Linked DNA regions of Homo sapiens. The protein of the gene in region 2 purifies or fractionates together with the protein of the main gene of each other region. This does not show direct contact. Each region holds a gene or a part of one and is shown on either strand. Other genes may lie near its edges. The genes, in order: LRPPRC, IGF2BP1, ELAVL1 and STAU2.

Region 1 (7,150 bases), on a different chromosome or scaffold from region 2:
GAGCAGAGATGGCGCCACTGCACTCCAGCTTGGGCAACAGAGCAAGACTTCGCCTCATTAAAAAAAAAAAAAAAAAGAAAAAAGACAATTCCAGACATCATGTTAATTTACTTCTACATATTCCAGTGCCAACATGCATCTCTAAACATATTTTTTCTTACGTAACCACAAAGCCATTATCATGCCTTAGAAAATTAGCAATAATTGGCTGGGCGCGGTGGCTCATGCCTGTAATCCCAGCAATTTGGGAGGCCAAGGCGGGCAGATCACCTGAGGTCGGGAGTTCGAGACCAGACTGGCCAACATGGTGAAACCCTGTCTCTGCTAAAAATACAAAAATTAGCCAGGCATAGTGGTGCGTGTTTGTAGTTCCGGCTACTTGGGAGGCTGAGGCAGGAGAATTGCTTGAACCTAGGAGGCGTAAGTTGCAGTGAGCTGAGATCACGCCACTGCACTCCAGCCTGGTCGACAGAGTAAGACTCATTCTCAACAAACAAACAAACAACAAATTCTATGGTCAATGTTGCATGCTCATTGTATTGGAACTAACAGTAGCATTGTATGTGATTGATAATTCCTTCCTGGAAGGACTTCTTTCATTCAGGTATTTGTGACCTCACTGGGCTCAGTTCTCCTGCCTCTCTGGCTCTTCTTTCTCAGTTTCCTTTGCTAGATTTTCATCTATACATCCTCTAAAGATTGAAATGACACAAGCCTCAGTCCTTGGACTCCCTCTCTTGTCTATCTGCATTTTCTTCCTAGATGCTTTCATCTATTTCTGTGGCTTCAAATATTAGGTACAAGCTGCAGATTCCCAAATGTATCTTTAGCTCTGACTTTTCCCCTGAACTGACTTGTATGTCATATAGCCAACCCCTATTCAAATTTGACGCTTGGATGTCTAGCAGGCACAAGCTTAATATTCTAGAAGATCATTTTTGATTTCACTTTTTAAATCTGCTTCTCTTTGTTTTCTCCTTTTAAATCAGAGTCATCTCCATCTTTCTAGTTGTTTAGGCCAAAACCTTTGGAGCCGTTCTTGACTTACAATCCACAGCCAATCCATCAGTAAATCCCCTTGGTTCTACTATTTAAATAGAGTAAGAACCTGACCCTTTCTCATCATTTCACCTGCTGCCCTCTAATCCAAGCCACTAGCATCTCTATTCTGGATTAGCCTTCTCTTTGGTCTATTTTTATTTATCCCCATTCCCCTAAAATCTCCTTTCCAAACAGCAGATAGAGTGACCCTTTCAAAATGCAAATGGGTGGCTGGGTGCCGTGGCTCACGCCTATAATCCCGGCACTTAGGGAGGCTGAGGTGGGTAAATCACTTGAGGCCAGGAGTTAGAGACCAGCTTAGCCAAAATGGTGAAACCCCATCTCTACTAAAAATACAAAATTAACTGGGTGTGGTGGTTCATGCGTGTAATCTTAGCTACTTGGGAGGCTAAGGCATGAGAATCGCGTGGACCCGGGGAGGCAGAGGTTGCTGTGAGCCTAGATTGTGCCACTGCACTTAAAAAAAAAAAAAAAAAGCAAAAGGGTGTGGTGGCATGCACCTGTAGTCCCACTTCCTTGGGAGGCCAGGGTAGGAGGATTGCTTGAGCCCAGGAGTTCAAGGCTGTAGTGTGTCATAATTGCACCTGTGAATAGACACTGCACTCTAGCCTGGGCAACACAGCAAGACTCCATCTCTTTAAAAGCAACACACCAAACTATCCAATGGTTTCTCATCTCATTCTAAGTAAAAGTCTTCAGTCTAAATAAAAGTCAGTCTTCACGGCCACCTACAACACCCTGTTTGATATGGCCTCCAACTACCTCTCTGACCTCCAGGCCCCTCTCCACCCCCTGCTCCTTCCTCTACTCCTACCCCCTGCTCTCTACCCCCTGCTCTTTTCTCTCATCCACACAGTCCTCCTCCTTAAAGTTCTCTGAATAGGCTACACCTATTATTGCCTCTGGGTTTTGGTGTTTGCTGTTCTCTAAGCCTTAACCACTCTTTTTTTTTTTCTCCTTCCAGAAAATTCTCCTGGCTTCCTCCTTTCCTTCCTTCAGGTTTCTGTTCAACGTTTTTCCTATTTAAAATATCAACTCTCCGGGCGTCGTGGCTCATGTCTGTAATCCCAGCACTTTGGGAGACGAGGCAGGCAGATTGCTTGAGGCCATGAGTTTGAGACCAGCCTGGGCAACACGGCAAAAACCCGTATCTACTAAAAATACAAAAATTAGCCAGGGCTTGGGCCTGTAATCCCGGCTACTCAGGAGGCTGAGGTGGGAGGATCGCTTGAGCCCAGACGTCGAGGCTGCAGTGAGCCAAGATCGTGCCATTGCTCTCCAGCCTGGGTGACAGAGCAAGACCCTGTCTTGAGAAAAAAAAAAAAAAAGCAACTCCCCCCATGACACCCTCAATCCCTTTACCCTGGCGTATTTTGCATCACAGTTCTTTTTGTCTTCCCAAATTAAACTTTAAAGAGCTTAATTAGAATCTAGGGTTGGTTTGTTTTGTTCTCTGCTGTATTCCTAGGATTTCAAATAGTGTATGGCACTGGATATGTATTCAATAAATACGTGTTGAATAGGTGAATAACTTGTATTCCCAGTGCTCAGTAATATAACCCAGAGTCAATCAATTCACCTTGTTTCTTTTGGGGGCTTGGAGCGGGTGTCTTCGTTCCCTCATCTCTCAAAGGAGAGGTGAGCTAGGTCATCTCAAAATAGACATTAATTTAACACATATTTAATGAGACCTACTGTGTGTCTGGCACTGGGTAGGTGTATGGCCTACAATAAGAGATCACAGTCCCTACTGATAAGGAGTTCGTGGGATTAACTGATAAGGAGTCCAGTGGGATAAACAGTCACTTCGGAAATGACCGTGGGAGGGCTTCCAGAGGAAATACCCGCCGCGTTTGCCTCGTGATAGGTAGGGGACAGGCAGGTGTAGAGGGAGTGGAAGGCTGTTCTCAGCTTCCCACGTGTGCACAGGGAACCGATCCAGTCTGTAAGCCCTGTGAAGGCAGCGACGTGGTTTTTTTGTTTTGTTTTAGACAGAGTCTCGCTGTGTCACCCAGGCTGGAGTGCAATGGCGCCATCTTGGCTCACTGCAACCTCCACCTCTCGGGTTCAAGCAATTCTCCTGCCTCAGCCTCCCGAGTAGCTGAGATTACAGGCGCCCGCCACCACGCCCGGCTAATTTTTTGTATTTTTAGTACAGATGGGGTTTCACCATGTTGGCCAGGCTGGTCTCCAACTCCTGACCTCAGGTGATCCACCCGCCTCGGCCTTCCAAAGTGATGGGATTACAGGCGTGAGCCACTTCGCCAGCGATGGGTTTAACTTGCCAGTTTTCTCCCCATATTTGGCTGGAGACTCTTAATTACATTGTTCTTTTACTTCTCACATGTATATGTGCATTTACTGAAGGGAGAGGCGCGGTAGGGGTGGAGGGTTGGGGAAGAGAGTCAGTTCAATTCCAGCTTTAAAACTATAGGATTTTTGGTAGAATTCATTTATTTTCTAAAGCGAGGCCCCGCGTACGCGCTTAGGGTGGGGACCTGCGCGTTCCTTTACACTGTTCCCAGGCCCTGATAATCCACATCCTATCATGTTGAACCTGGGAGGCAAACGGCAAGGTGCAAAAGACCTCCACGGTTTCTCCGGCCCGCGTTTCTGAGAGTGAAGGGCCGTTCCTATTGGACATGGCGTCAGGGCTGAACGTTAGCAGCAACATCTGCACTCGGGGGCGGGGGAAACCTTCCCACGTCCTGGGATCTTCATAGTCGGCTCTCCTCGAGAGTTCTCGGTATTTTTACTAGTTGGCCTCCCACAAGCCTCTGCGCCAACCTGGGAGGAGTTGACCTCTTGCGGCTCTACCAACAGAGGAGTGCAGGGGTGCAGCGAATGAACACGATGCCCAGATCGGAGACGGAAGACGGAAAAGAAAAGCTTCGATAATGAATCAAGCAACATCGTTTATGTAAATATTACATTGGGTCTTCTGTCCTCGGAGAAGTGCGGTTTTCCATCTTCCAACCTAAAACAATCCGTCGCTCCCCCCACATTTGGCACGCCCGGCAGTTGGTCTCTGCCGCGCCAGGCTACCCTGCGGTCACATGCTCCTCCTGTCCTTCTGGCGGAGCGTGCTTCCCGCTGCGGGGACGTTCGAGCAATGGCAGCCCTGCTGAGATCCGCGCGTTGGTTGCTGCGTGCCGGGGCGGCCCCGCGCCTCCCGCTCTCCCTGCGCCTCCTCCCTGGCGGCCCGGGCCGGCTGCATGCCGCCTCCTATCTGCCCGCCGCTCGCGCCGGGCCCGTGGCCGGGTGAGTGCCCAGGCCCTTTCTCCAGGCAAGCTGCGGCGCCAGGGTCCCCCGGGGTCGTGGGTGCCGGCAGGGACCGGGTCCTGCCTGTGCTCGCCACCCTTCTCCCCGCCCCAGGACCTAGCCTCCCCGGGCTCCGCACCACGCTCCCTACCAGGGGTTTTCGGGTGACAGGGTTAAGCGCCTTCAGAAGGTCACGGCTGTGGGCATGGCCTGCCTCCGGCTTGAATCCTGCCCCCGCCACTTCAGCCTGGACCTTACTGCCCTCGGGGTACCCATGGTCAACGAAGATGAGGGGGGCTTTGAAGACTGCTTTGGGAAGTCGGGTGGTGGTCTTTTCCTTACACTTGGCCAGCTTGGGTGGTGTCCCACGTGCGGTCACCGTTGGTGATCAGTAACCACCTAGCATTTAGATATTGGAAATTTAGCTTTTTGCGAGGGATGGGGCGGCGAGGAGTGGGTTGGGAGTTTGGGTGAGCCACGGATGACTTAAAGCTGGACGCTGGATTATGATCACTTTGGGCTTTTGCCTGCGTTCTCTTGAATGGAGTTTTCCTTCAGCATTTAAGAAGGTGTTGCGCGAGTTGGGCTGGAGTGCAGTGGCGCGATCTCAGCTCACTGCAACTTCCGCTTCCCGGGTTCAAGCGATTCTCCTGCCTCAGCCTCCCGAGTAGCTGGGATTACAGGTGTGCGCCACCATGCCAGGCTAACTTTTGTACTTTTAGTAGAGACTGGGTTTCACCATGTTGGCCACGCTAGTCTCGAACTCCTGACTTCAAGCGATCCTCCTGCCTCGGCCTCCCAAAGTGCTGGGATTACAGGTGTGAGCCACCGCTCCCGTCCTGTAAGTGTCTTTGAATGAATGAGCACATGCAAGGCACTCTGTTGGAATCTGGGGATGCAAAGGCAAGTTAAACTCTAAGTGGGTGTCAGATAGGCGAATAAATGCTCTCATGGTTTGAGGTTTATCAGAGATAGGTTTGGTATAGACTTTTGTAGTGGAGGGGAAAAGAAAAGTTGGTGAAAGTGTTCATTTGGTTATTAATAGTATTCTGACCACCAGAGAAGGGGAGATAGGTGCTGAGCTTTTAGCATTGGAGAAAAAATGATTTTGAAAGACTGATGCTTGTAAATTAAGGTACTTTGAGAGCTCGCGTAAGGACTGAGAGCCAGGGATCTGCAGTAGGCTGGGCCCAGACTGCAGCCTACTCCAGATTTATCTGCATTTTATCCTCAAATTATCTGCATTATGCCATTAGAGAAGTTACTTAACATCTCCAGGCCTCAGCTTCCTTAGCTATAAGGTGGGAGTAGTAGTAGTGTTAGGAATATTGCAGAATTATCTGTATTAAGCACTTAGTATAGGGCCTGATGCCTAGTAAGTGCTTTGTTGGTTACTACAGGAGTCATAATATCTACGGTTATGCGGACCTTCATGGACCAGCCTGAACACCTAATCTCGCCATAAAATTACGTGGAGGAAATAATTTATGATTTCTTAACAACTTAGTTATAATCTTTGGAATGGAGCGTACTTGTAATTTGGAGTCTGCCTATATTTTCTTATTGGGCTTGAACAGTTAACTTTCCGAAATCATGCCTCTGAGCACAGAACTATATACATCTCTTGGCTTTCAGAGTTTCTTTTGAGAAAGTTGTGCCCATTACTCTTATTTTTCTAATCCTCAGCATTTCTGTGAGGCCAGGGGAAGGTCCACATTTTCTTTTATCTTCACTGTTGCATTTGAGGAGAACTGAATAAAGAGAGAACATAGTTTAGTAGAAAGGGTGGTCTCGGTGTTCATCAGACCTGGGTTCTGTTTACTTACTGCGTAATCTCAGCCATCTTACTAACCTGTCTGTTCCTCAGTTTCATTATCTGTAAAGGCCTTTCCCCCTTATCTTTGTAAAGTTGCTTTCTTATCATTCAGATCTCAAATGTCTCTTCAGGGAAGCCTTACCTCAACACTCAATCCAAAACATGCCGGTCCCACTGTAGATTTATTCGTGGCACACCTCACTTGTCTGATATCATTACTTATTTCTCTGGTTTTTTTTTTTTTCTTTAGTAGAAGGTAAGCTATATGAGAGCAGGACTTTGTCTTGTTCACCACTGTGTGTTCAGGTGACAGCAGGCAATAAAGAAGTGATTGTTCCCTCTTTTTCCTGGACTCTGAGCACTGTATATAGTCTCCTACCCGACATCCTGTAAGCATGCCCAGATCTTGCCCACGTGAAACACAGAACCTTTCCTGGAACTCTGTTTACTCTAGAAGTTTCTCAGTCTCTTCCCTGTCCATACTTCTCTGTCCCTTTAATTTCATCACTTTTCATTCACTTTCCTATCCACTGCAGTCACACCGCTGTCAAAGGCCATTATTATCTTATTGATTTTTTTATTGTATTTTTGAAAAATTATTTCAAAAGTGCCTTGAAGAACAGTTGCAAAAATTATTCCTTAAGGTGCCTCGAGGGACAGTTGCAAAACCTGGGTGGTGGGAACAATAAACTAAAAATCACCCTTAATTATGTCAACCAGAGAGCCATTCATTGATAGCTGTCCTTCTAATGACTTATGTATGTGTAAGATGTATGTTTATTTAACTTTTTGAAAGGACCTCTTTTAATTACCAAATCCACTTTTTAGGCCTTGACCTGGCATATTACTCTGTCTTCCATTTTCCCCTTCATGAGACACTTTTCTTGGTATTGATGACACCATTTTTCTAGGTTCTCTTCTCTTTAGGATTTGTCTCATTTGCTTGATTCCTCTTGCTTCTGTTCACCTATTAAATGCTGATGTTCTTGGTAGTTTTACTCGTGGTCCTTC
Region 2 (7,000 bases):
GGAACTATTGTGTCTATAGATCAATATGGCTTGTTACTATGTTTATAGAGCTTGCGATTTAACTTCACATGTTTGAAATACCGTGTTATTGGAAAGGCAATTAGAGTTAGGAGTAAAGAGGCAATAAAATGGGAAGGAAGAAAAGAAGTCTTATTTGTTATTTTGAAACATTTTCTGGAGATGTGTCTAAGGAACATACACTGACACCAGCAGGTTTATTGAAAAGGATATGGATATTTGAACTGAAAGCTGAGTGTTGATGAAAAATATCCAGAATAAGTGGAATTCTAAAATATGTGGATTTTTTCTTTTGCTCTTGAGGATGGTTTAAATTTTAGGGAATAAAGTGAAAAGCAAGAGAAATAGCAAAACGTGATGAAATGGAACTCAAAACATTTATATTTTAATTTTCATGGTGCCCTGTATTTATGAATCTTTTTCCCCAAGCCATCTGCTTGCTTTTAAGTCATTTCTAGGCCCTTTTTCCCTCCAAAATGCATTACTGAGGGCTCTTTTTTGAGTTGGAATGGAGAGGGGGTTTGTGAGAAGACTGGGTAAAAAAAAAAAATCTGTCCACACCCATATTAAATTAGATCTTTTATGTGTTCTCCCCTTCCTGAAATAATTTTTTTAGCCCAAACATTGAGTCAGTTGTGTTTTCTTTGCTTTTTATTTTGGTTGGTGGTGAGAAGGCACTTCATTTTTCTAGAATGAATCAATTTTTGAAGTCTCAAGATTTAAAAAAGAAAGTTTGTTTTCATTAAGTCAGTTTGCTCTATCATTTTGTGTCTTTGAGGAAGTATGTTGTGGTATGTGTCTTTAGTCTGTGTCTGAAAAGTATTTCGTCAGTTAGGTTTGTTACTGACTTTCCATCTCATGGATGTATAGAACAGGAACTAGTTAATTATGACTAATATATTCTAAGCAAAATGAACAACTATACAAATAATATTTTGTGTATATATACTCTTGTATTTTCCTTATGAACTCTTCTTGAGGCATTCAGTTCCAAATGAACTATGATTTCAATTTCTAAAATAATTCATAAAAACCCAACAACTAAATGTTCCTGGTTGTTTTGTTTTGTTTTTTAAGAGGGGGAAATCAAACAAAAGATATGCTGTAGCAATACCTCTTAATGTATTTTGTTCTTAGTTTGAATTTATTTGATACATATAATTTGTACCTTTTTAAGAACTCAAGAGGCCGAACACTATGCATTTCAACTGAAAACAGCAGTTAGCTTGAATTTTTAAAATGAGGTGATACTAATTTCTTAGAGATCACCATCTCAAACCCCCTTAGTGTTGGAATTTGGTTAACAATTTGTGCTTTTTTGTTGAGAATTTGTATATGTTCACTGCCAGATACTGAGACAAAAGAGAAAAACCAAATGCATTTAAAAACAGTTGTGGAAAGGGCTTGTATATGTTTTATTCTGAGAGACTTAGGAGTAGTTGAGGTAAAGGGGGTACCATTTTAGTGTGACTTGATTACTTTGAGACATGATTTGCTTTTTAAGGGAATTAAACCTTTGTTACACTTGCCACTGTGGTGTGCCTTTTTCTAGAGGAATGTGACCTAAAGATAGCATATTCACTGTCAACTGGTGTCATCAAAATAAAAGGTGTTACTGTTAATTAAGAAAAAAATGAAAGAGATGCACTGACTCATTTTTTTTAAAGGTGAAATGTGTTCACATTAAAGAATTCTAAGTTTGGTGATTTCTTTAGGCAGATTAATGGTCCTTTTCCTCTATGTTGACTAAAAATGAGGTGGGCTAACTCCCTTAAGTACCTATTAAACAAAATTAGTTTTATAAATCGTTCATAAAATTGAGAACTCCCAAAAGAAAGTGTCCAAATTTTACAGTTTAATTTTTTGAAGTTAACAGCTTTAAAAATCTGTGAAGGGATGTCTTATAAATGGCAAAAAATATTTTAAATATATTTTAACAATGATTTGTTGAGGCTCTGAAGAAATCACTTGGATCACTAAATGTTTTCAAAACAACCTAAAAATTGTCTTCAGAAATGGATTTGCACTTAAGGAAAAAAGAAAACCTACCTTGTACTTTGGGGCTGAAAATGAATGAAGAGGGGTTAAAAAGGGAATGAAAACTACTAGAGCGGGAGGGTTTTCAGGCACTTTTACTTTAATGGTTGTAATTATGAATTAGTATCCAAGTCAAAAAGAAAGTTTTTAACTCATACGAGGTAAAAGATAACATGTGACTACTATTCAACATGGAAGTTTAAAGTAGAAACAATTGATTACTCTTTTAAAAAGGTTTTCTTATTAATATTAGGTTAGAATTTTTTTTTTTTTTTTGCTTTACATAAGTGAAAAAAATGGTTGAATGTTAAGTTTTTGTGCACTGTTTGGAGGAAAGGTGGAAACTGGGGTACATTCTTTCCCTATTTTAATTTCCACCTAAAAATTAAACTTTGCAAATTCATAAATTAGTTTCCTTCACTGCTGGTAGAAATCCTTAACTGTTCTCATTTGGGTGGTCAGTATTTCAAGATGAGAGTTTTGTAAGGGCAGTGGCAACTGACTGTCCCTTAGAAGAATTGTAGGTTTCTAGAACCCCTTATTTTCTGACCCAAATTAAAAAGATGAAATTTTACCATAATGGTTTCTCAGATGGAGAACTTTTTAGTAAAAAGGGGGAAGAACTGCAAGTCCCATCACTAATTTATTCAAAGTATTGTTAATTGTTGAAAAGGTAAAGTTTTAATGGCACAGCTTTTGGTGGAAAAAAACATAATTATGTTTCAGAGATTAAATACATGACATTAGCAATTGGAAGAACCTTGATTCAAAGGTTCTGAGCTTCTAATCTTTTAAAATTACCTTAATATGTATCATTTTAATCTATGTGTGTGGGTACTTTTAAGGCTTACTTTTTAAGAGTGTATTTATACTATACTTTAATGTGTAGCAGCCAGTTGACAAAGATACTATTGAGGTAGTCTACTGAGTATACAATTTTAAAACATTTTAAAATTCAGATCTGGTTTAGTTGAGTGAGAAGTGGGGAACAGCAAGTGCTATTTGTTGAAGTTTAAAGGTTTTGTGAAGAGTTATTTAGTGGTTAGATCTGTTGATTTTTGTGTGTGGGGTGGTAGTGGTGGTGATGGGGTTGTTAGAATAAGTTTATGAACCAAAGGCATTTGAAGAACGGACATTTTCCCAGCTGTTAGAATTTAAAATAAGTGTGGTTCGTTCCCTATCCTCTTAAAAGATTCTTGAAATGTGGCTAATGTTTTCCAGAAAGTGCAGCTTAGAATTTGGGATGGGAGTGTTAGGGAGAGAAAAGGGGAGGAAAAAAGCAGCAGGGGGAGACTGGAGAAATCAGACGAGTTAGTCCCGGCTTGGAAATTCCAGACGGGGAGGGGGGAGGGAGAGAGGGAGGGAGGGGAGATACGGGGTTGGGTGGATTTCCCGCTTCCCTTTTAAAGGGGAGCGGCTGGAGTCTCACAGTGTTACCCACGGGAGAGGGGTCGGAGACGGGTGGTAGACTCAGCTCAGGGCAAGGCTATATTTGCTTTTGGAGTTGCCGGCCTTCCCTTCCCCTTTCAAAAAAGAGAGAGAGTAGAGAGAGAGAAAGTGGCGGCGGCGCTGCAGGCTCTTCCTGGAGCGCTCGCCCCGGCCCGGCGGCCCTAACCTTCCCCGCCCGCCCCCGCGCCAGTCCCAGCCCGGCAATCTCGTCTCGCTCTGAGGTGGGGCCGCCCGCCTGCCTTCTCTTAACAAGCCCCTGACAGAGAACATCCGCTGGCCTGGGTCTCCGAGGAGGACTTCCCCTCTCAGATCCCTGAGACCCCAGGAGATCCCAGGCCGCTTGTGGTGCGCCTTAGTCCTGGGAACCCCAGATCGCAAACCTCGCAGCAGATACCCCACGAGAGGGTTCCCCCTCACCGGCTGCGGGCTGCGGGCTGCAGACCCTTTCCAGCACCTGGGCTGCCTCAGGAGCTCTCCATTCTAAGGCAAAAAGCCAGTGGGTAAATGTGAAGTGAAAAGAGGCAAGAAGAGAGGAAGAGTAGGTAAAGGGAAAATAGGATGAGACAGTTGGAGAGAAAATGGAAGTGCAAGTAGCTGTTCCTCTCTCCCAGTAGCTGGGGTCTTGGCCTGAGAAATAGAACCTTAAAGAGTTAAGTGTCAATTTAAGTAACCTGCAATCTTTACAAAATGAGCTGTTTGTGTCTGTCCACAGGTCCTGAAGGCTGACCGAAACAATAACAGAGGCAGTAATAGTAGTCAGAGGTTCTATCCATGGATTTTGTTTATCTTGTAAAAGAGAGACAACAGGCCTTCCAGTTGTCCAGGGTCTCAGCCAGTCTTCGACTCCATGTTAGTGTAAAACTTCTGCACCCCATCCATTTCCACCTTTCCTCTCCTCCCCTATACCTTTTTAAATGCCTGTCAAAACAAAAAGCAGAAGGAAAGGTCTCTCAAACCTGTACTCAAGAAAGTGTATGCCCATTTGGTTACCGATAGTTTGGTTAAAAATGATCCTGTAAGATACCACCTGACACACACCATCGCAAGGGCAAGGAGGCAATGCCAGCAGGAAGCTACGTAGTCCCCAGGTAGTGACTTCATTCTACTAGGAGAACTTGGATGGCCCTTCAGATTTTGATCAGAGGAGACTATGTACTTATTACTGGATAGAAGGGGGGTCATCCTACTATTAAAATTTATTGCAGAGCCTGCTTTGTAAGACCTGCTTACTACCTTGCAGCACAGTAGGTTTGCAATAATACAACAGGCTGGAACAAACTTTTGCTCTAACCATAGTTGACTGACAAAATATATGTTGATTACAGGTAAGTCACAGAAAAGTAGGTTTGGACCTCATACTTTTAATACAGTTGGAAAAAACCTGATTGCAACACACTGAAATGTAACTGTGTGCAGAACAAACACCATCAGAAATGCAGTCCTTTTGCATTTTGGGAAATCCAGGTTCCCAGGAGCATGGCTGGTCGTAAGCAAACTGCTTTTGACTGAAATAGAGAGCAAACAGCTCGATGATTAAGAGAAGTTTTGAGTGGATTGTGCAGATATTTTCAAGACCCCTTAGGACAAGTCTGGTTATTAGACAAGTGGCATTTTGGTGGCTGGAAGGCATGTAAGGGATGGTGTCTGATATGGGATGGCTGGAAATTTTGCTTATAGTTTAGAGGAGGGTTGTGGAGAAAAATCCCATAATAGAGGAGGCAGGAGAAGAGGGGAAGCTCTACATTTTCTCTTTCCCTTTCTACCATGTCTGGTTAGTGGATTCTAGTCAATCCTCTCTACATTTCCTTATGAAAAGAAGGTTAAGGAGAACTTCAAATTTTTTTTTTTTCATTTTGAGTTAATTTTGGTTAAAAACTCAATCACTCATTCAGGACAGGCACGGTGGCTCACATCTGCAATCCTAGCACTTCTGGAGGCCGAATAGGGCAGATTACATGAGGCCAGGAGTTCAAGACCAGCTTGGCCGACATGGTGAAACCCTGCCTGTACTAAAAATACAAAAATTAGCCAGGTGTGGTGGTGCATGCCTGTAGTCCCAGCTACTCGGGAGGCTGAGGCCAGAGAATTGCTTAAATCTGAGAGGTGGAGGTTGCAGTGAGCCGAGATCGCACCACTGCACTCCAGCTTGGGTAACAGCGAGACTGTGTCTCAAACAAAAACAAAAACCAACTCAATCACTCATTTGGATGTTTTGGCCACTTGAAATGGAAAATGTTAAGTCTGAGTGAAATTTGATTGGATAGTTTAGTTTAGTTGATTGGATATAGTTAGGATCTTTAAGGGGAGAAATCAGAGAATTCAGAAATATGTGTGTAATGGTTGTTTGTGTGGTCTGACCTCTTTGGCAAAGAGGAACAAGGAGGAAAGGAATCATTCAAAATTCTTAAGGCTCCAGGAGGGAAGAAGTGCTGTTAGGTCAGAGTCTTAATGACCTACCCTAGGTCTCTCACTCATCCTTTACTGGGGTCTGGAGGAAAGGTCTTCCTCCCAGGAGAATTCAGTGTTTAAAAGCTTGAGCTCAATTTCCGTAACTGTAAAGAAGTGGTCCTAATAGTAGTACACAATAGCTCTTATTGTTATTATTTTGTTGTAGATATTGACTTCTGTCCCTCCTGCCCTAGCCATTGTTTGTCCTCCTTTGAAGCTTTACAGTTGTATCCTACCCTGCCCCATATAGCTGTGGTTAGCTCCATGAGTATTAGAACTGATCAAGTGTACAGATGCCTGAAAATGTGTCCATGAGAGGTTGTCTTTGAACTGTGTGTGTGTCAGCTTGGGCTATATATCTAAGGCACTAGGAACAGTGATGGCTAGGCATGTTGAAGGGGATCTGTGCGTAGGGTGCTTTGGTAACTCTACCTGTATGTTGAAAGGAAAAGCCACCTTTTAGTGGAGAGAGATGAAGCTCACCAGGGCAACCCCACAGAGCCCCTAGATTATAGATTCCCCCAGTACATTCTCTGAGACAGAGGCTTGGAGAGATGAGGCGAGCATGGTGGATAATGCTATTAATTGTTCTTTAGGGGAAACAGGCCATTTATTCTGTTATCGTTTATGCCCTGAACTTGGTCCAGGTTCCTAGCTGAAATTTCACACTTTACGGCTACTGTCAAAGGTGTACATGTAGAGTAGGGACATTGGTGAGAGGGGAACTAACTCTGCATATAAGGTAGGTGTTGTAAGAATTCAGGATGAAGGGGACTGTAAGAATCCTCCTGGGGGTCTGAGGAAGGAAGAAATGAGAGTGACCTCCCCCATCTGCTGGGATGGGTATGTTCATTTTCATGTCCTGCTCTTGGTAAGCTAACAAAGTAGGCATTCAGGAACTGGGGATCCCTAGATACCCAGGGGGTGACTGCACACATTGTTCCCTACTTCTTCTGCTTCTGTAGTGTCCTCACATTCTCCCCCTGGTTCCCTGGTCTGGAACCAGTTCCCAGAGATGCACTCAGAACCCACCTTTATGCCCACTTCT
Region 3 (7,033 bases), on a different chromosome or scaffold from region 2:
CCTCCTTAGTGTTCCCATCCCATTCAGTTTATTGAATCGAATTCAAGGCTGAATGGCGAGAGAAGCGCAGCGCCCGGCTGGCGCCCCTAGGTGGCAGTAGCGAGGCGGTGCGGCCGACCCGAGCTGTGGGTCAGGGGAAGACCAACGGAAGCCAGCCTGTGGGAGGGAAGTGAGGCTCGCTCCCTCCTCTGAACGACTCTCCCTGCTCCGCTGCTGTGTCCTGGGCCCCCGCTAGGCTCTGGAGAGTGTGCATGATGTGTGTAGGTCATCTCAGCCCACTCTGATGAGTGCTGTGAGAATTATGCCCTGGCTGATGTGGAAGCCCAGAAAAGGGACCTGGGTGGGCACAGGAGAGCCCAGAATGCTTCCTGGAGGAGAGGAGGCAGTAGCGGTGGGGAGGAGCTAACCAGGCAAAGACAATAGGGTGGGGCTTTTTAGGATACAGCCAAGCCCGGAGGTGGGAACATCGCAGTGTTCAGAGAACATCGTGTGTTCAAAGAACCACGTGGGTTCTTTAGGGACAAGAAGGCTGAGATGGGTAGTGGTGGCAGGAGTGCTCAGGTGTCCACTGGGCAGAGGGCTTGGCTGTTACCCTGCAGGTAGGCCAGGGGTGGCTACTGAGCAGTTTTAGTTCACTGCTCACCCTGGTGGAGAGGCTGGGGGGAGACAAGGAGAAACCAGTCACAGGCTGTTGCAGTACTGAGGTGGCCCCGTAATGGCTGAACCGCTTGAGGGTCAGGACTGGGACTGCTTCTATATTTTGTATGCCTGATGCTTTGCTCTGTGCCTGGCACGTGGTTGATATTTTGTCTGTGCCAGGGAAAGGAAAGATTGGCAGACTACTCAGAAGCGACTGGATCCAGGTACCTGTCAAACAGACATCTGTGGCTGGGTGTAGTGGCTCACACCTGTAACCCCAACAGCTTGGGAGGCCAAGGTGGAAGATTGCTCAAGGCCAGGAGTTCAAGACCAGCCTGGGCAACATAGCGAGATCCCATCTCTAAAAAAAAAAAAAATTTTTTTTAAGAGTGAGACGTTTATGTCAGGGGAAGGAATCACAGGAGAGGGAACAATCCTGAACAGCTCGATGGCCAGACTCATGTCACCATGAACAGAAACAGGCAGACTCAAGGAAGGGGAGTGACTAGGAGGAAGAAGATGAAGCTGGGTTTAGAGACACTGAGTTTGCAATCCCACTTAGGAGTCGGTCTAGCAGGAGGTGACAGGAATCTGAATAGGGATGGTGGCAGAGAGGTGGCAGGACGGTGAGAGATCTCACATGTCAAACTGGCAGGACATGGTGCTTGATTAGGTCCAAGGGCTAGAGAGAGGTGGCTTGGGGGACAGGTGGGGCTATGCCACCAAATGAAGTAATTCAGGGGGCGGAGGCGGTTTGAAGAGAGGGCAAGGACAGGAGGAGAGGAGATGAAGGTGTTTGTAGCTGCAGACAGGGAGGTTGGGGAGACATACATTCGCCTTGATTTTGTTCATGAAGTGGGACTAGAGACAGGTACTCACTGTACCAGGCACTGTGGAGCAAGGGGTGACATCCCCAGTGGAGGAAGCTGAAGCTCTGGGAAGGGGAGCGACTTCTGCACAGTAGTTCAGCTGATGAGCAGGAGACTTAGTGCCCAGCTCGGGCCTGCCAGGCTCCAGAGCTCAGGGTTTTTTCCTGCCATGCCCTGTTGCTTTGCACTTCTGTGTGAGATCCCTGCAGTGGCCTTTGGCCTTGACCAGCCAGAAAGAAGCCAGAGCCCTTAGCAGGGCTGTGGGGTGCCTGGACTGGGCCACAGGCCAGCCACACCTGACCTGCTCCTGCCCCGGGCTTCTCAGCCTGGCTGAAAGGGAATTGTCACTTAGCTGGAGCTGCTCCAGCCAGGCATCCTGCCCTTCTGTGGGCCATGGGCAGGGGCTTGGAAGAAGCTGGTGCCATGTCCACCTGAGACCTTGCCTTGCATGGCATTTATAACTGGGTCAGGTGGTGCTTTGGGTTTTTTCTGGCAGCAGAGCATTTCCTGAATGACCTAAGCCTTTTTTACCTGGAAGACTCAGAATGTTGCATCTGGAAAGGACCTTAAACATTATTGGGTCCAAGCCCTGTCAGATGATGTGTGAAGTGTCAAGATTGAGCCTGAAGATAGATTTGACTGTTCTAGTTTTGCTCTGGCTCAAGTGGTTTAGAATACCTGCTCCGTCATGGTGCAATGAAAGTGATTCTCATGCTTGCCTGGTGGAAAGCAGCCTCACTGCTTCACTCTTTTTCTGTCACACATAAAGACACACACATCTCTCTCCCCTGGATATGCGCTAGATGATCGACGGATGTGAACAACATCACTGATGTCACATAGACAACCAGGATTGTTTAAAATAGTGCATTGGAGTCAAAAACCTTCAGAGATCATCCAAACAAGACTTCTCCCAGAGGCCAGGCACCGACGGTGACTCTCACCTCTAAGCCCAGTGCTTGGGAGGCTGAGGTAGGAGGATCACTTGACGTCAGGAGTTAAAGACCAGCCTGAACAACATGGCGAGACACCCCCCCGCCCCCGCCTCTACAAAACATAAAAAAGCGGCCAAGCGTGGTGGCTCATGCTTGTAATCCCAGCACTTTGGGAGGCCAAGGCGGGTGGATCACCTGAGGTCAGGAGTGCCAGAGCAGCCTGGCCAACGTAGTGAAACCCTGTCTCTACTAAAAATACAAAAATTAGCCGGGCGTGGTGGCAGGTGCCTGTAATCTCAGCTACTCGGGAGGCTGAAGCCGGAGAATCACTTGAACCTAGGAGGCGGAGGTTGCAGTGAGCCAAGATCGCACCACTGCACTCCAGCCTGGGTGACAAAGCAAGACCCCCCTCTCTGCAAAACATAAAAAAGCTTAGACAGAACTACATAGAGGACTTAGTAGGACTACGTAGTGACACGCACCTGCAGTCCTAGGTACTTGGGAGGCTTAGGTGGGAGGATCACCTGAGCCTAGGAGGCCGGGGCTGCAGTGAGCCGTGATCATGCCTCTGCACTCCAGCCTGGTCTGAGAGCCAGCAGCCTCCTGTACTGCTGTGTGACACACCCTGGCTTTGCCTGGGGACTCTTAGATGGCAATGGTATAACCTGGGCCCTCAAGGTTCTCACCACTGACATTGGTCATTGAGTGTAAGGCAAATAATGATAGGAGTGGTTGGGACAGTAACAAAGGTTTACAGCAATGGCATGGAGGCACTGAGAACTAGAGTAAGTAACCTGTTGTCCTGGGGGAAGGTGGCCTTTTATTTTTTATTTTTTTGAGACAGTCTCACTCTGTTGCCCAGGCTGGAGTGCAGTGGCGTGATTTTGACTCACTGCAACCTCTGCCTCCCGCGTTCAAGTGAGTCTGCTGTCTCAGCCTCCTGAGTAGCTGGTACTACAGGCATGCACCATCACGCCCAGCTAATTTTTGTATTTTCAGTATAGACAGGGTTTCACTATGTTGGCCATGCTGGTCTCAAACTCCTGACCTCAGGTGATCCGCCTACCTCGGCCTCCCACATTGCTGGGATTACAGGCATAAGCCACCACGCCAGGCCAGGAAGGTAGCTTTTTAAAGATGAGCCAGCCTGGTGTAGTGGCTCTCACCTATAATCCCAGCACTTTGGGAGGCCCAGGTGGGAGGATGACTTGAAGCCAGCATGGGCAACAAAATGAGACCCCTGTCTCTAAAAAAATTTAAAAATCAGCCAGGTATGGTGGCACACACCAGTAGTCCCAGCTACTTGGGAAACTGAGGCAGTTTGAGGCTGCAGTGAGCCGTGATTATGCCACTGCACTCTAGTTTGGCAGCAGAGCAAGACCCTTTCTCAAAAGAAAAATAAGTAAAAATAGAAGTGAGCTGGGAGGCCAGGCATGGTGGCTCACACCTGCAATTCCAGCACTTTGGGAGGCCAAAGTAGGAGGATCACTTGAGCTTGGGAGTTCAAGACCAGCCTGGGCAACAAAGAGAGACCCCCATCTCTTTAAAAAAAAATACTAATTTTAAAAAATGAGCTGGGAAGTGAAGGAGAGGACACTAGTGCCCTGCAGAGGGAACAGCCAAAGCAGAGGCCTGTAGCATATTGGCAAGAAGCTGGAGTGAGCGGGAAGGGAGGGTGGCGACTGAGGCTGGAGAACCACCTGGGTCCGATTGTGAAGGGCCTTGCCAGTTTGACAGTTGCATTGTCATGACAACTTGAGGCCTGGCCCTGCCACTTATTAATGGCATGCCTGACCGTGAGCATCATCGTGTGACCGCCGAGCCTCAATGGGTGGTGACCACTGACAGGGAATACCAGAGGGGTGAGCATCTTGATTGCAGGACAGTGCAGGCCTTGCACCTCGAGAGACAGAAGTGGCTACGACTTGGGAGTCAGTGATAATTGAGTGGTGACAAGGCCCAGTTGTGGTTGGAGCTTGTGGGATAGAAGCTGATTTGGCCCAGGATTGATGATGCAGATTTGGAGAAGGTCAAGGGAAGGGCCTCCAGAGAGTGGGGTGGGGGCCCAGAAACGTCATGAAACTGCTTTGCAGGGCAGGTTGTTGGTTTCTCCCGTGTTACTAGTTGACCAAGAACTTGACCTGCAGGGGCTGCTCAGCCTTGACTCAGAGTGTCAGGAGGAACAGGGCCGCAAAGCAGAAGTTCTCTTTTTAAACCTTTTAAAATTTATTTTTATTGTGGTTTTGTTGTTGTTTTTGAGGCAGGATCTCACTCTGTCGCCCACGCTGGACTGCAGTGGCACAATCATAGCTAACTGCAGTATTGACCTCCCAGGCTCTAGTGATCCTCCCAGCTGAGCCCCCCGATTAGCTGGGATTGCATACAGGTGTGCATCACCATTCCTGGGTAATTTTTAATTTTTTTTTTTTTTGTAATGATGGCATCTCTCTGTGCTGCCCAGGCTGGTCTTGAACTCCAGGCTTAAGCAGTCCTCCCACCTTGGCCTCTGAAAGCGCTGGGATTAAAGGCATGAGTCGCCACACTCAGACAATTTATTTTTAAATTTGCATGTAGGAAAATTCATTTTTTCGAGTAGAGTTCTCTGAGTTTTGACAAACGGATAAAGTTGTTTGATTACCACCATAATAAAGATTGGAAAGTTCGCTCTCCCACAAACAGAAATACTCCCTCCTCCTGTCCCTGTGTAATCGACTTTTCCCCTCACTCCCTAACCCCAGCGACCACAGATCCATCCCTATGGTTTTGCCTTTTCCAGGAAGGCACAGAAATGATGTGGCAAGATGTGTTTGAGATTCACACAAGTAGCATGAATTGGTGATACCTTTTATTGCCAGGTGGTATTCTGTTGTATGGTGTATCCCAGTTTATCCATGAATGGCTTGAAGAATATTTGGGTTGTTGTAGTTTTGGATGATTATGAATAATGCCGCTCTGCACATTTATATACAGATTTTTGTGTGAATATAGATTTTCCTTTCTATTGCCTTAATACTAGGAGTAGGATTGCTGGATCCCATGCTAAGTGTATATTTCACCATAAGAAACTGCCAATCTGTTTTCCAAAGTGGCTGTCACATTTCACATTTTTGCATTCCCACCAGCAGTGCATGAATATTCTGGCTTCTCCACATCCCTGCCAGCACTTGACATTGTCTGTTTTGTTGCTGTTGGTTGTTTTTTGTTTTATTTTGCTTTAGCCATTCTAATAAGTGGGTAGCGGTGTCTCGATGTGGTTTTAATTTGACTAATGATGTTGAGCATCTTTTCATGTGCCTGTCTGCCATCCATATATATTCTTTGGTATAGTATCTGTTCAAATCTTTTGCCATTTTTGAAACCAGGTTGTTTGCTCATTATGTTGTTTTTGGTTTTTGGAGATGGAGTCTGGCCCTATCGCCCAGTTTGGAGTACAGTGGCGCCATCTCGGCTCATTGCAACCTCTGCCTCCCAGGTTCAAGCGATTCTCCTGCCTCAGCCTCCCCAGTAACTGAGATTACAGATGCCCACCACCACGCCTTGCTAATTTTTTTTTTGTTGTATTTTTGTAGAGATGGGGTTTCACCATGTTGGCCGGACTGGTCTCAAACTCCTGACCTCAGGTGATCCACCCACCTCGGCCTCCCAAAGTGCTGGAATTCCAGGCATGAGCCAGCACACTAGCCTGCTTCTGTTTTGAGAGCTTAAAAAAAAGTGTTCTGGGCCAGGCGTGGTGGCTCACGCCTGTAATCCCAGCACTTTGGGAGGCCGAGGTGGGCAGATGGGCAGATCACGAGGTCAGGAGATGGAGACCATCCTGGCTAACACGGTGAAACCCCGTCTCTACTAAAAATACAAAAAATTAGCTGGGCATGGTGGCGGGCGCCTGTAGTCCCAGCTACTTGGGAGGCTGAGGCAGGAGAATGGCATGAACCCGGGAGGTGGAGCTTGCAGTGAGCGGAGATCATGCCACTGCACTCCAGCCTGGGTGACAGAGCAAGACTCCATTTCAAAAAAAAAAAAAAAAGGGTTCTGGGTTGGGTGAGGTGGCTTACGCCTATAATTCTAATACTTTGAGAGGCCAAGATGGGAGGATCACTTGACACCAGGAATTCAAGACCAGCGTGGGCAACATAGTGAGACCCTATCTCGACAAAAAATAAAAAATTAGCCAGAAGGCTGAGGCAGGAGGATTGCTTGAACCCAAGAGTTTGTGGCTGCAGTGAGCTATGATTATGGCATTGCACTTCAGCCTGGGCAGTGGAGTGAGACTTTGACTCAAAAAAAAAAAAAAGTGTTCTGACTACAAGTCCCTTTTGCAAATGTTTACTCCAGTTGGTGGATTTTAATTCTCCTAGCAGTATCTTTCACAGAGCAAAAGTTTCAAATTTTGATGATATCCAGTTTATCCATTTTTTTTTTTTTTTAACGAAGTGGGCTTTTGGTGTTGTGTCTGAGAAATCTTTCCCCAGCCCAATGCCACAAAGATTTTTCTCCAAGAAATTTTATGTTTTTACATTTTAAAACAGAGGTCGGCAGATTTTTTTTGTGTGAAGAGCCAGATGGTAAATATTCTCAGCTTTTTTGGCCATA
Region 4 (7,037 bases), on a different chromosome or scaffold from region 2:
TCAGCTCACTGCAACCTCTGCCTCCCGGGTTCAAGCGATTCTCCTGCCTCAGCCTCCCGAGTAGCTGGGATTACAGGCGCGCACCACCACACCCAGCTAATTTTTGTATTTTTAGTAGAGACGGGGTTTCACCATGTTGGCCAGGCTGGTCTCGAACTCCTGACCTCCTGATCCACCTGCCTCGGCCTCCCAAAGTGCTGGGATTACAGGCATGAGCCACCCCACCTGGCCAATTTTTTTTATTTTCTATGATCAGCTTGGTGAAAAATAAAAGATTTGCCTTCTTATAATTTTTCCTGGAACAAAGTCAAGGGCTTGACCTCTAGGACAACATAATGGCAAAGCTCCTATATAGAACTTGGGGAGGATTATTTAAAATCAAACGATGCACACATAAATAAAAATGATAATTATTACTGATTCTAGACATCTAGTATTTTGTGTACCTATAAGAGGCACAAATATATCTATATGTGAATAATCATACTGTGCGTGTCTCAAACTATGCAGTCTAAGAGAATTCAATTTTGCAGTATCTAGAGTTTTCCCTCTTTATTATGATCTGTACCTATAAATGATCAGATTCCCAGCACTGAACGTGCACAAAACAAGATAATAATAGGAATAAAGAGAAGGGTAGGCACAAAGGAAAAAAAAAAAAAAACCTACCATATCTTCTAGAACCTAAACAGGAAAACCGCTCTGCCTCGATTTCTGGATTGTTTGTATATTTAAAAGCTTGATGACTATCTTAGATTTTTTTTATATTCATACTATTTGTTGAAAAGCAAACCAAGCCACTCTTCCTAGCACTTCATTCCAGACAAGCCAAGTAAGCTAAAATGTAAAATTTGCATGGTTTTCCAAGCTCAAGTATTTAGGAGTTAAGGATCACAATGTATGTAACTTACCCTTAAATGGTCCAGGGGAAAAATATTTTGTGTGTGATAGAGAGCAAATAATAAATACATAAAATGTTAACAGGTGAATCTGAATAAAGGTTACAAAGATTTTCTTTGTATTATTCTTATTCTTGCCATTTGTCTGTAAGCTTGAAATTATTTCCAAATAAAGTTAAAATTTAAAAATTACACAGCATTTTATTTGAAATTAACAATACATACTTGGATTACACAGCAACATTCTTACAAATACAAAACACTGGTTTTTATGGGGAAAAATGCAGTAATTTGTGAGCAAGTATGTACCATATCCTACCAACTTATCATCACTTAGGAATAAATTTCAGACTAGCCTACCATATAATAAAATATGGCAATAGTGACTTGACTTGAAACCATAGCAGGAAAACACAAACACACCAGATAGTTTGGCATAACTGCTTCGCAAATTTAATACAGGCCTGCTGCAAAATGCAGCAATCTACAATTAAAGTGTTATGTGATATCTCTTGTTTGCAGTAAGATACAAACTGAACAATGAAAATCTGGCCATACTACAAAACAGAGATGGAGAGTAAGTCTTGGTTTTGGTAGTTTTATTAAATAAGATTTTTCCACCGCAGCTGAGTTCACAACAGTGTACTTGAATCATCTAAAGAAAGCAAGGACGGGGAAGAAATATCCTGGAGAAATGTTGAAATCTTTTCTCCTCCAAGGTTACTATCACCCTGCCTGTCCATCACAATTTTGATTTCAAGTATTCACGATGCTGGTCTGAAACACAGGATGCATCAGAAGCCAAGTAATGCTCAGCAAAAGTTCACCAAAATTGTGAAAGCAAACATTAAATAAAAAACGTTTTCAATTAACAGTAAAATATCTTTAAAGGATCATCTCTAGCCTTTCTTTCTGCAGGATCCACCCACTTTAAAATCCTTTGGTAAATTCCCAGGTCTACCCTAATTGAATGGTCCCTCTCTATCTGCTCAAGCAGTTCTTAACCCTTTGGAGTGGGGATGGGGGTAAGGGGACATCACAGCAAATATGGACCCTTACCAAAGAAAATTATTCACAAATGCAAAATTCTACACACATTTCCAAAGACTTCCAGAATCCCACGGCCATTACCCCCACCGCCTCCCTAAGAATCCCAGAGTGGCGTGCTTCTCAATGGCCTCTGCGGAGCACCCCCAGCCCCCAAGCCACAGCCCCCGGCTCGACCCCGAAGAGACTAGAGTTCCTGCTCTCACACAGCGGATTCCGTAACTGAGCTTTGTCTCCTCGCCCAACTCCCTTCACCCCGGCAAGGTCACTACCGCCAACTACCCCTTTAAGCCGAGCCATCACGGTAGGAGTTCGTAACAGCCACAGCAGAACTTGCCTGTCATAGGATATATTTTGTCCCCTCGGCCCCACCTACCCTCCCCATTTCGGCAAGTTACGTCTTTACCACTAGCCCATTCTACAGAAATAGCTGCCGCCGCCACCCTCCGGCGCGCCCCGGCCCCGCCGCTCCGCCTCCAGCGCCCCCAGGCCCATTTCCCGCAGACCCTCCCCGGGCCGCCCTCCCCTGCCCTACTCTAGGCGCTCCCTCTCCCTCGCAGCCACACCGTGGCTGCACTCGCCGTCCTCTCTTCCGGCCGCTACCACCCCGGCCCCCTAGAACCCCAGCCTCCCGCGCCCGCAGCCGCGTTCCTGTCTCCCCGACCTCCGCACCCCCACTTGGCCCGGCCTCCTCGCCTTCCTCCCGGCTCCTCCCCTCAGGACACCTGTGTCGTCCCACCCCCTCCACCACACACGCACCCCCCACCCCAATTCCTTCGCCTCCCTGTCCTCCCTCCCCCGCCGGTCTCCCCTCCCCGCTGCTGCCCCGAGAGCCCGATGTGGGAGGGAAGGCGCGGGGGAGGGGAGGCCGCGAAGGGGGCTGCTTTTCTCCGGGTTCCCCGTGCTGCGGAACTGCAGGGCTCCCCAGCGCCCTCTGCCTTCTTCGCCGGCGGCGCGGAAGTCGGGGTCTCCCGGACGCCCCCGATGAGGGTATTTACCTTCTTGCCGGGGACACTTTGCAGACGGCTCCAACATTGGCAAACACTACAGAGAACTGACCCCGCTCGGCCGCCGCCGGCTTCCACCCCTCGGGCTCCCCGCCCCCCGCCTCCGCCCGCCTCCGCCCGCCTCCCCGGCGCTCCCGCCGCGCCCTCCCGCGCTCGCGCCGCGCGCCCCCGCCTGCGCAGCCGCTCCCGCGCCCCAGCACGCCCGGCCGGCGCGCGCGCCCGGCACCGGCTCTACCTCCACTCCGCCTCCCGCCGGCCCGCGACCAAGCGCGGCCATTGTTCGCGACGCAGCTCCCGCCCCCTGGCGGCTGCCGGGCCCCAGCAGCTGCAGGCTCTGCGGGGCTAGCGGCGGCGAGCTGGGCCCCTGGGCGAGGGCCATTCCCGGGGGGCTTGGGCACGCGGGCGAGCGACTGCGCAAGGAGCGCGCCCGGTCCGCAGTCTCCTCGTCCCCGGCGCGACTCCCCGCCCCCTCGTCTGCCAAGGGTGGGCCTGGGGCAGCCCCTTCCACACCTGCAACTCGGCAACTTCCTTCCCCGCCCGACTGACCGTCTGCTCTTTCTGGTCCGCACCCTGTGCTCTGATTCCCCGCTCGTACCTTTCCCAGGCTCTCCGGCTGCCCCTCTGTGCTGTGCAGGGGACGCGCGACCATCCCGCGTCTGCTCCGGCCGCCGCTGTGCAACGCACGGTTTAGCGGATCTTGCACCTTTCTAGACGGGGGAGGGGGCGGGGAGGAGGTTGCTTCACCGTCTCGCCCAGCAAACACCAGGGATCCGTGATCACCTGCTCGCCAAGACCCGCGGCGTGGCCAGACCTCCTCTTCTACCGAAAATATTAGTCACATGAAAAAGAATCCTTGGAGCCAAAAATGAGAACCATTGAAAACAATGCCCTGAATCCTAGATTTATGAGGCAAGAGTGCCAGAAAACAGAAATTACGTCTTAATTCGTCCTGGTTTTGATGTGGATTACTTTTGTCTAGATAACTTCAACCCAGTTAAGCTCAATGAAACTGAACACTTCGTTTAGTAACCGGCACCAAAAATAATCTGACAAAGAAATTTCGAAATAGAACTATTAGTGTGTTTTCACAAACTTACTCGTTTGCAACGTTATTTCTAGGGTTTCTTCCCAGTGTCACTTCTCTGACTGAGAAATGTCTCCCAGGCCGGTGATTTCAGTCATCATCTAAAACCAATCTCATGTCTGCACCTGGGAAGGTAGTGTGTGTCCTGGTTAACCGCAAGGGCGCCAGAGTCAGATAACCAAGGCTGGATATCCGCTTGCTAACTGGTGAGGAGACCACGGGCATGTTACTTATCCTGTGCATCAAGAGGAGACTACATGTGATAGATAGTTCGTATTTAAATGTGACAATACATATGAAGCCCTTTAAATAGGACCGGGTATGTAGTACCTCTCCTGGTACAATGTTAGCTACAGCTATATTTTTCCTCCCAGAACTCTTTCCTATGCTCCTTTCCCCCCTTTTCACCTCTGCCAGTTCCCTCGGATTTAACATGTTGCATCCTCCCTAAATTTGCTGTGCTCCTTCTAGCGGCTTACGCACCCAGTCAGCATTCTAATACAGTCATGCCTTACCTAGCCACAAGGATATGTTCTGAGGAACGTGTCATTAAGCGATTTTTGTTGTTTTGCGCACATCATAGCGTGTTCTTACGCAAACCTAGGTAGTCTAGCCAACTACTTGCTTTGGCTATATGGTATATAGCTATTGCGCCTAGGCTGCAAACCTGTACAGTGTGTTACTGTACTAATACTGTAGGCAATTTTGCAACACAAGGGTATTTGTACCTAAACAGAAAACCTACAGTAAAAGAACTATATAATCTTTTTTTTTTTTGAGACGAAGTCTCGCTCTGTCACCCAGGCTGAAATGCAGTAGCACAATCTCAGCTCACTGCAACCTCCACCTCCCGAGTTCAAGCAATTTTCCTGCCTCAGCCTCCCTGGTAGCTGGGATTACAGGCACATGCCACCACGTCCAGCTAATTTTTGTATTTTTAGTAGAGACGGGGTTTGACCATGTTGGCCACGCTGGTCTCGAACTCTTGACCTCAAGTGATTCCCCGCCGGCCCCCCCCCCCCCCGCCCCTCCCCACCACCTCGGCCTCCCAAAGTGCTGGGATTGCAGGCGCCCGGCTTAAAGAACTGTATAATCTTATGGGACCACCGTTGTATATGCAGTCCACCTGTCCATCATTGACTGAAAGAAGTTGACCAGAAATTGTTGAATATTTTGAATGAATACCTTACTTTCCCACCAGCCATACCAAGGGTCAAGCTGCCTACCTCTGTGTCTTTCCATAGGCTATTCTCTCTCCCTTCAGGCTACCCTTCTCTCGCCTGGTGAACAAATAATCTTTCACGGCATTCAAAAATCACCTTCTTGGCCGGGTGTGGTGGCTCACACCTGTAACCTCAGCACTTCGGGAGGCCGAAGCGGGCAGACCACGAGGTCACGAGTTTGAGACCAGCCTGGCCAACATGGTGAAACTCCATCTCTACTAAAAATACAAAAATTAGCTGGGCGTGGTGGCACACACCTGTAATCCCAGCTACTTGGGAGGCTGAGGCAGGAGAATTGCTTGAACTCGGGAGGCAGAGGTTGCAGTGAGCTGAGTTCGAGCCACTGCACTCTAGCCTGGGCAGCAGAGCAAGACTCCATCTCAAGAAAAAAAAGAAAAAAAATCACCTCCTTGAGAGGCATTCTCTAACACTCCTCTGAGCAGGCGAGTGCTCTTCTCTTGTACCTCTCTTCTCTGATATTGTAGGTATGTTAGAATTTTTTTTTTTAGCCTGTCTGTATCTACCAAACATTGCATTGTTGAAGGGCAGGCTCTGTGTCTCATGCATATCTGTAGTCCCAGCATCCAACAGCAAGTAGGTGGACGGTAAATCCTTTGGTATAAATGGATGAGTTTATACTTTTGGAAAGAACTCTGGGGTGGTCAGATTTCATTCTCTTTGATTCAGATCCTTAAAGTTAATTGAAAACTTTATCCCTCCCGTAACTGTTCCTCATAACTGATTTTCAGTCATTGGTAAACCCCAAATAGAATGAATTTTTCTAAGTCACAATTATCAGAAAGGAAATTGTTTTTTAATTGAATCAGCACTTTCAGTTGCTCAAGGTATATAGTATCAGTACATGAAATCACCTGAGTGACATGGAAATCCACACATCACTCTACAATCATTTTAGGATTTACTTTAAAATAAAATATTTGTATAGGAGTTGAAAATAATGAATATTTAAAGAGCGGTGGGCCAGCCGGCTGTGGTGGCTCACGTCTATAATCCCAGCACTTTGGGAGGCTAGCGTATCACCTGAAGTCAGGAGTTCGAGACCAGCCTGGGCAAAATGGCAAAAACCCCATCTCTACTAAAATTAGAAAAACTACCTGGGCGTGGTGGTGCGTGCTTGTAGTCCCAGCTACTCAGGAGGCTGAGGTGGGAGGATCACTTGAGCCTGGGAGGCAGAGGTTGGAGTGAGCTGAGATCACACTACTGCACTCCAGCCAGGGCCACAAAGAAAGACCCTGTATCAAAAAATATAAATAAATAAAGAACAGTGGGCCTATTAATAGGCAGCTGATTAAAGCAAATGAGGCCAGGCGCAGTGGCTCATGCCTGTAATCCCAGCACTTTGAAAAGCCAAAGAGGGAGGATCTCTTGAAACCAGGGGTTTGAAACCAGCGTGGGCAGTAAAGTGAGACCCCACCTCCATTTAATTAAAAATAAATTTAAAATTAAATTTTTTTTTAAAAAGCGTCTGTTTTATCAACACATTTTTACCAGTCACCATTGCAGTGAAATGTTCAAGCATCAGGAAAAAGATAATGCTTTCAAATTCACCATTATCGGATTTGAGCAGTTTGAATGGGACAGATTCCAGAATCACAAACTCCAGTTTCCTTCTATGTCCTCTTCTTTCTTATATTATATCTTATATTATGATGCCCTTTTCTTGACATTTATTTTCCTGTAAAATTCATCTAGCCCCCAGCACCCACCATAGAAGTTACCCTCCTTTATTGATGATATCTGAATTTTTTTAAATTCT

Evidence for each region.
Region 1: the proteins of IGF2BP1 (region 2) and LRPPRC purify together in Homo sapiens (co-immunoprecipitation; 2 studies listed by BioGRID and IntAct, with this or other methods). This does not show direct contact.
Region 3: the proteins of IGF2BP1 (region 2) and ELAVL1 purify together in Homo sapiens (co-immunoprecipitation; 3 studies listed by BioGRID and IntAct, with this or other methods). This does not show direct contact.
Region 4: the proteins of IGF2BP1 (region 2) and STAU2 purify together in Homo sapiens (co-immunoprecipitation; 2 studies listed by BioGRID and IntAct, with this or other methods). This does not show direct contact.

What each region holds. Positions count from the first base shown.
Region 1 is NC_000002.12:43,992,972-44,000,121, reverse strand, and holds the start of LRPPRC (leucine-rich PPR motif-containing protein, mitochondrial precursor), read left to right. Parts: upstream 1-4,132; 5' UTR 4,133-4,174; coding exon 4,175-4,323; coding exon of another isoform or gene 4,324-4,348; intron 4,349-7,150. UniProt on the Homo sapiens protein: May play a role in RNA metabolism in both nuclei and mitochondria. In the nucleus binds to HNRPA1-associated poly(A) mRNAs and is part of nmRNP complexes at late stages of mRNA maturation which are possibly associated with nuclear mRNA export.
Region 2 is NC_000017.11:49,000,385-49,007,384, forward strand, and holds part of IGF2BP1 (insulin-like growth factor 2 mRNA-binding protein 1), read left to right. Parts: exon of another isoform or gene 1-4,422; intron 4,423-7,000. UniProt on the Homo sapiens protein: RNA-binding factor that recruits target transcripts to cytoplasmic protein-RNA complexes (mRNPs). This transcript 'caging' into mRNPs allows mRNA transport and transient storage.
Region 3 is NC_000019.10:7,995,618-8,002,650, reverse strand, and holds part of ELAVL1 (ELAV-like protein 1), read left to right. Parts: intron 1-446; exon of another isoform or gene 447-534; coding exon of another isoform or gene 535-599; intron 600-7,033. UniProt on the Homo sapiens protein: RNA-binding protein that binds to the 3'-UTR region of mRNAs and increases their stability.
Region 4 is NC_000008.11:73,743,839-73,750,875, forward strand, and holds the start of STAU2 (double-stranded RNA-binding protein Staufen homolog 2), read right to left. Parts: upstream 3,003-7,037; 5' UTR 2,945-3,002; intron 1-2,944. UniProt on the Homo sapiens protein: RNA-binding protein required for the microtubule-dependent transport of neuronal RNA from the cell body to the dendrite.